Linked DNA regions of Homo sapiens. The protein of the gene in region 3 interacts with the protein of the main gene of each other region in a biochemical or structural test. Each region holds a gene or a part of one and is shown on either strand. Other genes may lie near its edges.

Region 1 (3,500 bases), on a different chromosome or scaffold from region 3:
ATTACACTAGCATAAGTAGACTTTGGAATGGAAGCCAGCTTTTCTGATTCTTAGTCTAGTTTTGGATATGAACAATCTAGTAAAGGAGGGTTGTTTTTGAGTCTCTTAAGTGTGATTTAAGAAAATAATCTGTTTGGTTTGAGAGCTTAACCACATTCATTCAATTTCTTTGTTCCTGTTTTTAAGAACCGACTTTCCTTTAACTGTCATCTCCCTCATGCCCTTGCTTCTCTTCTTTACATTTAAATAAGCTCTGGAACAATCTGTTAAAACATAAGTCAGAAAATCAGAGTAGGTACCTAAAAGTTAAGTAGGGCTGGTCTTAAAATGTGGCATTCTTCTCCTAGTTGGAAAGCTTTGCTTTTCTTTTTATAGATATCATTTAATTTTAAAATTTTTACTGTAAATTGACAGATTATAGTTGTATATGAAAGCATTGCTTTTCAATTGTAAATTAATTCTAAAGACTCCAGAATTTGTGTTGGGTCTTTTCCCATTTAGCATTGTTAAACCTCCCATTTTCACAAATAACTTCGTACAACCGATATTAGCATATGCTTTACTGAATTTGATAAGGGTTTTATGGTCTATTTACATATTAAGCATCTTGTTAAAGAAGATGTCTTAGATCATGCAGTTTGTGCCCAATAACATGAATTTTACTCATAAAATTCCCAGCTGGCTGGGTGCAGTGGCTCACACCTGTAATTCCAGGACTTTGGGAGGCCGAGGCAGGTGGATCATGAGGTCAGGAGTTTGAGACCAGCCTGGCCAACATAGTGAAACTCTGTCTCTACTAAAAATACAAAAATTAGCTGGGTGTGGTGGCATGCACCTGTAGTCCCAGCTACTCAGGAGGCTGAGGTGGGAGAATCGCTTGATCCCAGGAGGCAGAGGTTGCAGTGAGCCGAGACCATGCCATTGCACTCCAGCCTGGATGACGCAGTGAGACTCTGTCTCAAAAAAAAACTTCCCAGCAAATAATCTGCCAGCTTTTTCTTGGACACTTTGAGTACTTTGAGGGAACCGTTATTTCTCTCAAATGGGCTTGTTTATAACAAGGCTCATCTTTTCTAGGACTCTGAAAGGAAGAAAGGTCATGGATCTAGGATATTTTATTTCTAGATGAAAAGGAAATGGTCTATGAAGAAGTAGTTTCTTAGGAATCAGATTGAATGTTGAGGTAGACCACTGTCTGAAAAGTTTCAAACTTGAACAGGTTCATTTTGTGTAGCTAGAGGACTCTGCTCCTGTGACACCTCTAAACCTTCTCTGGCTCTTTATCCAGGCTGCTGGGGTAGAGCAGAAATCTCAGAACACATCCTTTGTCTTTTTCCAGGAATCATTTAGCTCATGCAAGGACTGGTTGGCAAGATTGGTTATATAAGGATGATGGATGGACTAGGGGACGATTAAGTCTTAGCAAGGAAACACTGCCTTAGCTTAAGAGTTGTCCTGTCCCATTTTAACTCTCTCCTTGCACACTAACAGTGTTGTATTTTTTTGTTTTTAGGTTTTTGACAACTATGCAGTCACAGTTATGATTGGTGGAGAACCATATACTCTTGGACTTTTTGATACTGCAGGTGAAAACTTAATGTCTTTTATACTGTTTTGATCTTTAACAGTTGCTAGTTGTCTGTCTCTTGTGGACATTTTGAGAAACTAGCACATGAGCAAAGTACTTGCCTTTTGTTATTAGTTAGCAGGATTGAATATAATGATTGTCGATGCTTGACCAAGGAGCAGTCCCAGACCTGGGTCGGCAAATAGGAGTTTGGAGTACCCTGGGTGAACAGTGTAGTAGATGAAGTAGAGTGAGACTAGAGTGCATCATACAAGCTCCAAATTGAACTAAAATCCTGATGCGTGCACCTTGCAGAGAACTGGGGACTGCATTAGTGGTTGGGGAGGGACTAAGGGAATGAATTCATAGGAATCATGCCCACTGATTCTCTCCCTTCACCCCTACCTGCTCCTTTTTAAAGCCTAGAGTTTCCTAAATATGCCTAAGGTTATAAGGTCATAAGCCATTTACAGTATTTATTATTATTACTCTCTTGATATTTGAAGGCATATTCAATTTATGTGTCTAATAACATGTTTAGTTTCTTACGATAGATAGCTTATTTTAAACTGTATCTGAAAATATTTTGAGAGTGAACTATTATCTGCTCACAGTATTGACATTTGTCAGCTATCCAAATTGTAAGAACAAATTACTTTCTTCCTTAAATGTACCTAATTCCTCAGTGCTATTTCTTGTTTTCAAGAGTGGCTGCACATCTTAATTTCTGACTTTTCTCTATGTGCCGTCTTATTATCAGCTCAGTTAGCCAGAGGAAAATCTCAGAAAGATATCCTTTAGAGTATCTTTAGAATGTAGGAATTCTAAACTTTGTGCTTTGAGTTACTGTTACTGTTTGCAAGTTAACATGTTGCTTCCATGGAATGTGGTGTTACACTGTGTACCACGAGGAACTATTTGGATTTAATTGAGAACGTGAAATGGAGAGACAGTAAAGATTAGAGAAATTTTTAATACATTAAAATCATAAAAGTAATGGTATATTAAATTTGGAATATAGAGAAAACAATGACCCATAATGTCATGATAAATGAGGGGTTTTCTTCTGTGTTCATTTGTGTCCAAAGGCACAGAGAAAATTTTTATTTTTTTTTTTTGTTGAGATGGAGTTTTGCTGTTGTTGCCCAGGCTGGAGTGCAATGGTGCAATCTCGGCTCACCGCAACCTCCGCCTCCCAGGTTCAAGCGATTCTTCTGCCTCAGCCTTCTGAGTAGCTGGGATTACAGGCATGCGCCACCATACCCGGCTAATTTTTTTGTATTTTAGTAGAGGTAGGGTTTCTCCATGTTGGTCAGGCTGGTCTCGAACTTCTGACCTCAGGTGATCCGCCCGCCTTGGCCTCCCAAAGTGCTGGGATTACAGGTGTGAACCACTGCGCCTGGCGAGAAAAGATAATTTATGGCTACTTGTGGTTGAAAATTAGTATTTTCAGATTTCAAAGTTTATTATTTATAAGCCTTTACATTTTCTGGCGAGTACTTTTGAAAGCTTTTTTGATGCGTAGTGCAATAAAAATCATTTTAAGGCCAGGCGCGGTGGCTCACGCCTGTAATTGCAGCACTTTGGGAGGCTGAGACAGGCAGTTCACCTGAGGTCAGGAGTTTGAGACCAGCCTGGCCAGTATGGTGAAACCCCATCTCTACTAAAAATACAAAAATTAGCCCAGTGTAGTGGTGTATGCCTGTTAAGTCCCAGCTACTTGGGAGGCTGAGACAGGAAAATTGCTTGAACCCAGGGGGCGGAGGTTGCAGTGAGCCGAGATTCTGCCACTGCCCTCCAGCCTGGCTGACAGAGTGAGACTCCGTCTTTAAAAAAAAAAAAATCGTTTTAAGTGTTCAGTGTGATGCATTTTGCTGACCCTCCACCATAATAAAATGTGTAACATTTTTATCACCCCTCAAATTTTCTGTGG
Region 2 (3,725 bases), on a different chromosome or scaffold from region 3:
CAGGAGGCTATAATCCCAGCACAGGGGCCTGAGGTGGGAGGATCGCTGAGCCCAGGAGTTCAAGACCAGCCTGGGCAACATAGGGAGACCTTGTTTCCACAAAAAATTCAAAAATAAGTGGTGGCTCTTGCCTGTAGTCCCAGCTACTCAGGAGGCTGAAGCAAGAGGATCCCTTCAGCCCAGGAATTCAGGGCAGCAGTGAGCTGTGATCACACCACTCCACCCAGCCTAGGTGACAAAGCACGATCCCATCTCAACAATAAAAAAATAAGTGGGCAGTGGCATAGGGAAATACGTTACCTCTTCTTGTTAAGGACATGGGGACTAGATCCTACTTGGAAAGTCACAGGTTTTAAATTGCCCAGAAAGCACTGGATTTTAGAAGAAGCCTCCAACTGCAGTGTGGCAGGAAGCCTGAGGACGCCAGGGACTCAGTCAAGGCAGACACACATGGAAGCTGTTGCTACAGTCCAGGAGCCATCCATGGTGGCCTGGACCAAGAATGGGGACTGGACAGTGAACATAAGTGGGCTGTTTCCTGGACTGCTTGAACTTGGAGGCAGATCAAGCATCGCTTACCCATGGTTTGGATGTGGCAGCTGAGGAAGAAAGTGGAGCCTAAGGCTCTAAGGGACCTTTTTAAAAATGATAAAGGTTGGCTGGGCTCGGTGGCTCACACATGTAATCCCAGCACTTTGGGAGGCCAAGGCGGGCGGATCACCTGAGGTCAGGAATTCGAGAAGAGCCTGACCAACATGGAGAAACCCCTCTCTACTAAAAATACAAAATTAGCCGGGCGTGCATGCCTGTAATCCCAGCTACTCGGGAGGCTGAAGCAGGAGAGTCGCTTGAACCCGGGAGGCGGAAGTTGCAGTGAGCCGAGATTGCGCCATTGCACTCCAGCCTGGGCAACAAGAGCAAAACTCCGTCTCAAAAAAAAAAAAAAAAAAAAAAAAAAAAAAAAAAAGATAAAGGTTGTGTAAAAACCTTAACAATAGTTGCCACTCAGTGTCAAGGATAAGCTGCTATGAAGGTTTTGACTGTTATGATAAAATGTCATTATCACTTCTTTTACTATTCTGTCCTAAGTCTCTATGTATATGAGGAACAAAACTACTAATATAAAGGCAACCAGCTGTGTCTAAAATCCTCTAAACTTCCTTTCCTGAATGACATCTTTAGCTGAGAAAGGCTCAACCGGGAAGAAATTCAAGGTACTGGCATAATCTGATACTGACTGAAATTTTATTACCAATCACTATTTGTTACAAATCTATGTCTTATAAGAATATGATTATTAAACTACAGAATTCTTAAAGTGCAACCTTATATTTAAGCTTAGTGCAATCAAAAGATAAAATCGACTCCTCTTTAAGTCTTCTGATTAAAACTTTTACTTAATTTATTCAAATAGGTAAAAGAAAAAGGTTATTCCACTCCTATTAGTGTATATTCATTCCTTGTCCACGCTGCGCTTCCACAAACCAAGTCAACATCTGCACTGGGCAATGTGACAGCCTTTCCATGGCCTTTCCCTCATGAAGAATGGAAGCCGTATTTGGCCACAAGTCTTGACTGATACTGCTGGAGAATTTCTGGTAGTTACTACTTCTTTGGAATTTCTAACTTTATATAATTAACTGCTCAGTTCAACCTCTTTTCAATCATCGAGCAATGTCATCACTCTAGGAAACGAACATGAGTCGGCTGGAAGAAAGTTCATGCCATTTCTACATTGGATTTCCCCCTAGCTCATGATGCTACAATTTTTTTTAACCTATCTGTGCTTCCCCTGCCCTGTCCTGTAGAAATAACCACAATGAAAGCAAATAACTTATGTTGCTATTATGTTCTTCATTTTTCCATTAAGAGAACTTTAAGACGGAGTCTTGGCTCTGTCTTCCAGGCTGGAGCCCAATGGTGCAATCCTGGCTTACCACAACCTCTGCCTGCTGGGTTCGAACAATTCTCCTGCCTCAGCCTCCCAAGTAGCTGGGACTACACGTAAGCACCACCACATCCAGCTAATTTTTTTTTGTTGTTGTATTTTCAGTAGAGACAGGGTTTTGCCATGTTGGCCAGACTGGTCTCGAATTCCTGACCTCAGGAGATCCACCCCATCGGCCTCCCAAAGTGCTGGGGTTACAGGCGTGAGCCACCACGCCCAGCCAAGAGAACTTTTTACTTACTTTTTGAGGAGAGTAGGGTAAACTTTAGTGTTACTTCCTGAAATCTATAAACCAAAACTTAAAAGCACAATCAACAAATCTAGAAACGCTAGGAATTTCCTCACGTTAAAAAAATAAAAGATCCAAGAAGCTCAAAAAATAACAACTTTCTGCACTGCCTTCTTTTAAAGACACGTTGATCTCAGGACAGAAAAGCCAAACTCTTCCAATGACAATTACAATTGCAAACCAAAATACAGAGCATATATTGCTGTCTAAAAGTGAGTAGATCTTGGCCAGGCGCAGTGGCTCTTCCCTGTAATCCCAGCAAGAGGCCAAGGCGGGTGGATCACTTCAGGCCAGGAGTTCGAGACCAGACTGACCAACACAGCGAAACTGCATCTCTATTAAAAATACAAAAAATTAGCTGAGTGTGGTGGCAGGCGCCTGTAATCCCAGCTACTCAGGAGGCTGAGGCAGAAGTATCGCTTGAGGCCACGGGGTAGAGGTTGCAGTGAGCTGAGATCGCATCACTGCACTCCAGCCTGAGCAACAGAGCGAGACTCTCTGACTCAAAAAACAAAAAAAAGTATGTAGATCTTAAGGACAAGGCAGTAGAATTTAGTAACTGTCAAATATATATTCCTACTTATTGAATAAATTAAAGACCTCGCATGAAGGTCCTCGATTTACACTGACAAACAAGGTATGGGGATTCTGTAACGGTAGGCCTTATATATAACTGCGTTAACTATGCAGATAAAATCTGTCCAGAAAAATACACCACTAGAGTAGTGCAGTGCTAAATAAACACAAAACCCAATCTAAAATTATGATGTTCTACTACCAATATCTGACTTCACAATCAATGTAAAGAAAGCTAGCCATAAGCCAGGCACGGTGGCTCATGCCTGTAATCCTAGCACTTTAGGAGGGCAAGGTGGGCGGACTGTCTGACCTTAGGAGTTCAAGACCAGCCTGGGCAGCACAGTGAAACCCCGTCTCTACTAAAATACAAAAGAAATTAGCTGGGTGTGGTGGCACACGCCTGTAATCTCAGCTACTCAGGAGGCTGAGGCAGGAGAATTGCTTGAACCTGGGAGGCAGAGGTTGCAGTGAGCTGATTTCGTGCCACTGCACTCCAGCCTGGCGACAGAGCAAGACTCTGTTTCTACCAAAAAAAAAAAAAAAAAGCCAGCAATTATTACCACTAGAAGCTTCAAAAAATTAAGATAGTGCATAAAGTTTCTCACTTAGGCTGAAGACACTATGTACAACTGAGCTGAAGTCTGAATCCACCCTTCCAGAATCAAGGCTAACCCTGGTGTAGTTGATACAAGCCAGCTGAACACACAAGAGTTCAAAAATAAGAATTTATATGTAACTGCACACAGTCCCTATTCTTTTTCAAAATCAGGCCGGGCATGGTGGCTGACGCCTGTAATCCCATCACTTTGGGAGGCCGAGGCAGGTGGATCACCTGAGGTCAGGAGTTCCAGACCAGCCTGGCCAAGATGGTGAAACCTGTCTCAACTAAGAATACAAAAATTAGCCAGG
Region 3 (3,725 bases):
ACCCTCTGGTCCCTGGGGCTGTGGGAGCAGAAGGCGTCAGAGGTAGCCCCGCCCACTCCAGCCCTGCCCCTCACCTTCTGGTCCCTGGGTCTGCAGAAACAGGAGGCGGGGTCAGAAGCGCTTAGAGGTAGCCCCACCCATCCTGCCCCACCCCTCACCCTCTGGTCCTTAGGTCTGTGGGAGCAGGAGGTGGGGTCAAAGGCGCTCAGAGGTAGCCCCGCCCACTCCAGCCCCGCCCTTCACCCTGGGGTCCCTGGGTCTGTGGGAGCAGGAGAAGGGGTCAAAGGCTCTCAGAGGTAGCCCCGCCCACCCATCACCACCCCCTCACCCGTGTGTCCCTGGGCCTCTGGGAGCAGGAGGCGGGATCAGAGGCGCTCAGAGGTAGAACCGCCCACTCTGGCCCTGCCCCTCACCCGCGGGTCCCCTGGGCTGCCAGGGCTCAGGCCCGGCTGCATCTCCAACTCCTCCTCGGGCTCGTTCTCGGCCTCGTCCTCCCAGGCCGTCTCGCCCGTCAGCGGGTTGTAGAAGAACACCCTGCGGCTCTCCTCATCCCAGTACTGGCCCCACTCGGTCTCAAGGCTCACGTGGCTGTCCACCGAGGCAGGGGAGGTGGCTGGGCTGGCGGCACCCTCGGCAGCCTCAAAGGGCGACTCCCAGGTGGTAACTCCCGTGTCTGGGTTGTAGTAGTAGGGGCGCCCGGTGCCCGCGTCCGTGTGCGTCTCCCACACCGGGCTGGGAAGGGGGGCTGCAGCGGCGCCCGGTGAAGTGGCCCGGGGCTGCCTCTCTATGTTCGCGTACACGGGCTCCGGTGGGTCGTCCACCTGCGGGAGGAGAAAGGAGGAATTTTGTGTTTTCAGAAACCTTCCAAAATGGTAACAGAGGTCCCCTCTGGGCAGTGCGATTATAGGGGTTTATTTGTTTTCGCTTTATTTTCTTTAAACTTTTCTGCAGCCTCAAAATTTTGTACAACAAAGCATTTTAAAAATCACGTAAGTTCTTCTGCTCACTGTGACACCATCACTAAGCCGTAAACTCCTTGAAAGGGGAAGTGCCTGTTAGAAGTGGCCTCTTCTTGAGCTTTAGCCCCTTGGGCGACCTTCAGGAAGTCACACTACCTCTCTGCCTCAGTTTCCTGGGTGTAAAATGTCTGCTCTGTCCATTCCGGAAACTGTAGTGAAGAGTGAATGAGGAAATGCTCTTGAAAGTACTTTGTAAAGTATTTAGTGCCCCAGACGGGTGGGTCAATTACATTAATTATATTTATCAATAATAATAAAACATCGATAACCCAGTTCTCACAACTGTGCACTCACAGAGGCAAGTCAGAGGTTGGGCAGGAACTGAGAAGTGGTCTGGGGCGTGCCCCTGTTTATGGTGCCCATTCAGGGCCCTGCTGCATTCTTTTTTTTGAGATGGGGTCTAGCTCTGTCACCCAGGCTGGAGTGCAGTGGCGCAATCTTGGCTCACTGCAACCACCACCTCCTGGATTCAAGCTGCATTCTTACAGCTCCACTGAGAGCTCCCACCCCACCCCACTCTCAGCCCAGAAAGCTCTGGGATTGGAATCAGCACCCTGTCTGGATTTGGGGACTGAACTTTCCAAGGTGAAGTTTGCAGGTGTCAGAACCAATTCCAGACAAGAGAGGGAGACAGGACAGCCAGATGGGCTGGAGAATGGAGGGGCAAAGAGAGGTGAATTGTTTTACTCCACCCCAAAGGAGAGTGAGGGCAGCTGGGGGTTCAATCACATAGAACATAAACCTAGCCATGCGTAAGCCTCCCGGAACAGAGGCTCTCCTGATTCACACCTCAGAGCTCCCTGCTGGCTGCAGGGCAAAGTCTAAGCCCTTAACCAGGCACAAGAGACCGTCCCTCACCGGCCTGTGCTTCCACTATTATTTCCTGCCACTCCTTGCCCCTTGCCTTGAACTTTAAGCTCCAGTAGCACCAGTTGCTAGAGGTCCCCACCGTCCCTGCTGTGTTTCCTCCAGGCCTAGGCTCATCTGCAGCCTGCCCAGGCCCATCTCCACCCCTTTTTTTGCCTGGCTGACTCCAATTCCTTCTTCAGGATTCAGCTGAGGTGCCAGGTTCCAGCCTTTTCCTGAGATTCCCCCCATCCCCGTGCCCCCACATTCAGCCCAGCACCCTTGGCCCCACAGAGGGACAGATGACTACATTCTCAAACCCCAGGCAGCAGCATGGCATACGGAGATTACTACTATTTTCTTTTCTTTTCTTTTTCTTTTTCTTTTTTTTCTTTTTTTTTTTTTGAGATGGAGTCTCGCTCTGTCGTCCAGACTGGAGTGGAATGGTGTGATCTCGGCTCACTGCAACCTCCGCCTCCTGGGTTCAAGCGATTCTCATGCCTCAGCCTCCCAAGTAGCTGGCATTGCAGGCACGCACCACCACGCCTGGCTAATTTTTGTATTTTAGTAGAGATGGGGTTTTGCCCTGTTGGCCAGGCTGGTCTTGAACTCCTGACCTCAGGTGATCCGCCCACCAGGGCCTCCCAAAGTGCTGGGATTACAGGTGTGAGCCACCGCACCTGGCCAATTACTACTATTTTCTAAGCATACACAATACTTCAGGGGAAAGCAGATTTCCACATTTCAATTTTGTGTTTTCGGAAACTTTCCAAAATGCTAACAGAGGTCCCTTCTGAGCACTGTGATTATAGGGGTTTGTTTTTGTTTTGTTTTCTTTGAACTTTCCTGCAGCCTCAAAATTTTGTACTACAAAACTTTTAAAAATTCACAGAAGTTCCTCTGCTGACTGTGACACCATCACTAAGCTGTAAACTCCTCGAAAGAGGAAGCACCTGTTCAGGGTGGTCTCTCCCTGAGCCTTAGGCAGATGCCAAAAAAAAAAAAAAATTCATTTTTCACCAAACTGATGCCAAAAAAGCAAACCAAACCAAAACAATGAAAAGAAGAAGGAAAAGAAGAACATTTGTTTACCCAACAAAGATTCACCTGCTCTGTGCCAGGCACTGTTTGAGGCACGGGGAATACAGCAGGGAAGAAAGGGACACAAATCCTTCCCTGGCAGAGCTGGCACTCAAGTGCACCTGTGTGTAAATGGTGGGGGTGATGAGTAAATGGACAGCATGTCAGTGCTGATCACTGCTAAGCAAGAAATGAAAACACTGTCAATGAAGAGGATGTTACAGTTTTAGACAGGGTGCCAGTCCCCAGGCGCCTGGGGGACAGGGAGAGCTGGGGATCCCAGCCCATCAGTTCTTCTCTCCTCTCCCCTTCCTCCAGGCTGCTGTGTGGCTGAGAGGGGACCCTCCACCCCACTTGTCCTTTCTCTACCCCCACCATAGCTCTGATGTGGCATCCTGTAGTCCAACCACAACAGGCCTCTCACCGGCCCCCAACAGAAAAGGCATCCTCCCACCTCGAAGCGTTTGCTCCAGCCATTCCCTCAGCCTGGAATTCCCTTCTCTGGTTCTCTGCCTACCCAAATCCTGCTCTCTCACGGTGCTCAGCTGACAAGCCTCTCCAGGGAGAGGTCAAACCTGCTGGCACTCTGCTCACTGCTCTGTTGAGGCCCAATGGCGTTCTGCCTTGGTGGGCAGCCAGTTGTCCAACCATCTGCCCACCTCCTCTGCCCCAAAAGGCAGGATTTTCTTGAGAGCAAGACTAAGGATAATGTAGCTGATTCCATTTGCCCCCCAGCAGCTGGGCCAATGCCCTGAAGCACATAGCAGGTCTGCCACAAAC

What was found.
Region 1: of the proteins of ARHGAP27 (region 3) and CDC42, one has a biochemical effect on the other in vitro, tested with the Homo sapiens proteins (one study listed by BioGRID).
Region 2: of the proteins of ARHGAP27 (region 3) and RAC1, one has a biochemical effect on the other in vitro, tested with the Homo sapiens proteins (one study listed by BioGRID).

Annotation. Positions count from the first base shown.
Region 1 is NC_000001.11:22,080,209-22,083,708, forward strand, and holds part of CDC42 (cell division control protein 42 homolog isoform 1 precursor), read left to right. Parts: intron 1-1,513; coding exon 1,514-1,586; intron 1,587-3,500. UniProt on the Homo sapiens protein: Plasma membrane-associated small GTPase which cycles between an active GTP-bound and an inactive GDP-bound state. In active state binds to a variety of effector proteins to regulate cellular responses. Involved in epithelial cell polarization processes.
Region 2 is NC_000007.14:6,381,027-6,384,751, reverse strand, and holds part of RAC1 (ras-related C3 botulinum toxin substrate 1), read right to left. Parts: intron 1-3,725. UniProt on the Homo sapiens protein: Plasma membrane-associated small GTPase which cycles between active GTP-bound and inactive GDP-bound states.
Region 3 is NC_000017.11:45,405,263-45,408,987, forward strand, and holds part of ARHGAP27 (rho GTPase-activating protein 27), read right to left. Parts: exon of another isoform or gene 2,973-3,725; intron 822-2,972; coding exon 414-821; exon of another isoform or gene 329-413; intron 91-328; exon of another isoform or gene 3-90; intron 1-2. UniProt on the Homo sapiens protein: Rho GTPase-activating protein which may be involved in clathrin-mediated endocytosis. GTPase activators for the Rho-type GTPases act by converting them to an inactive GDP-bound state. Has activity toward CDC42 and RAC1.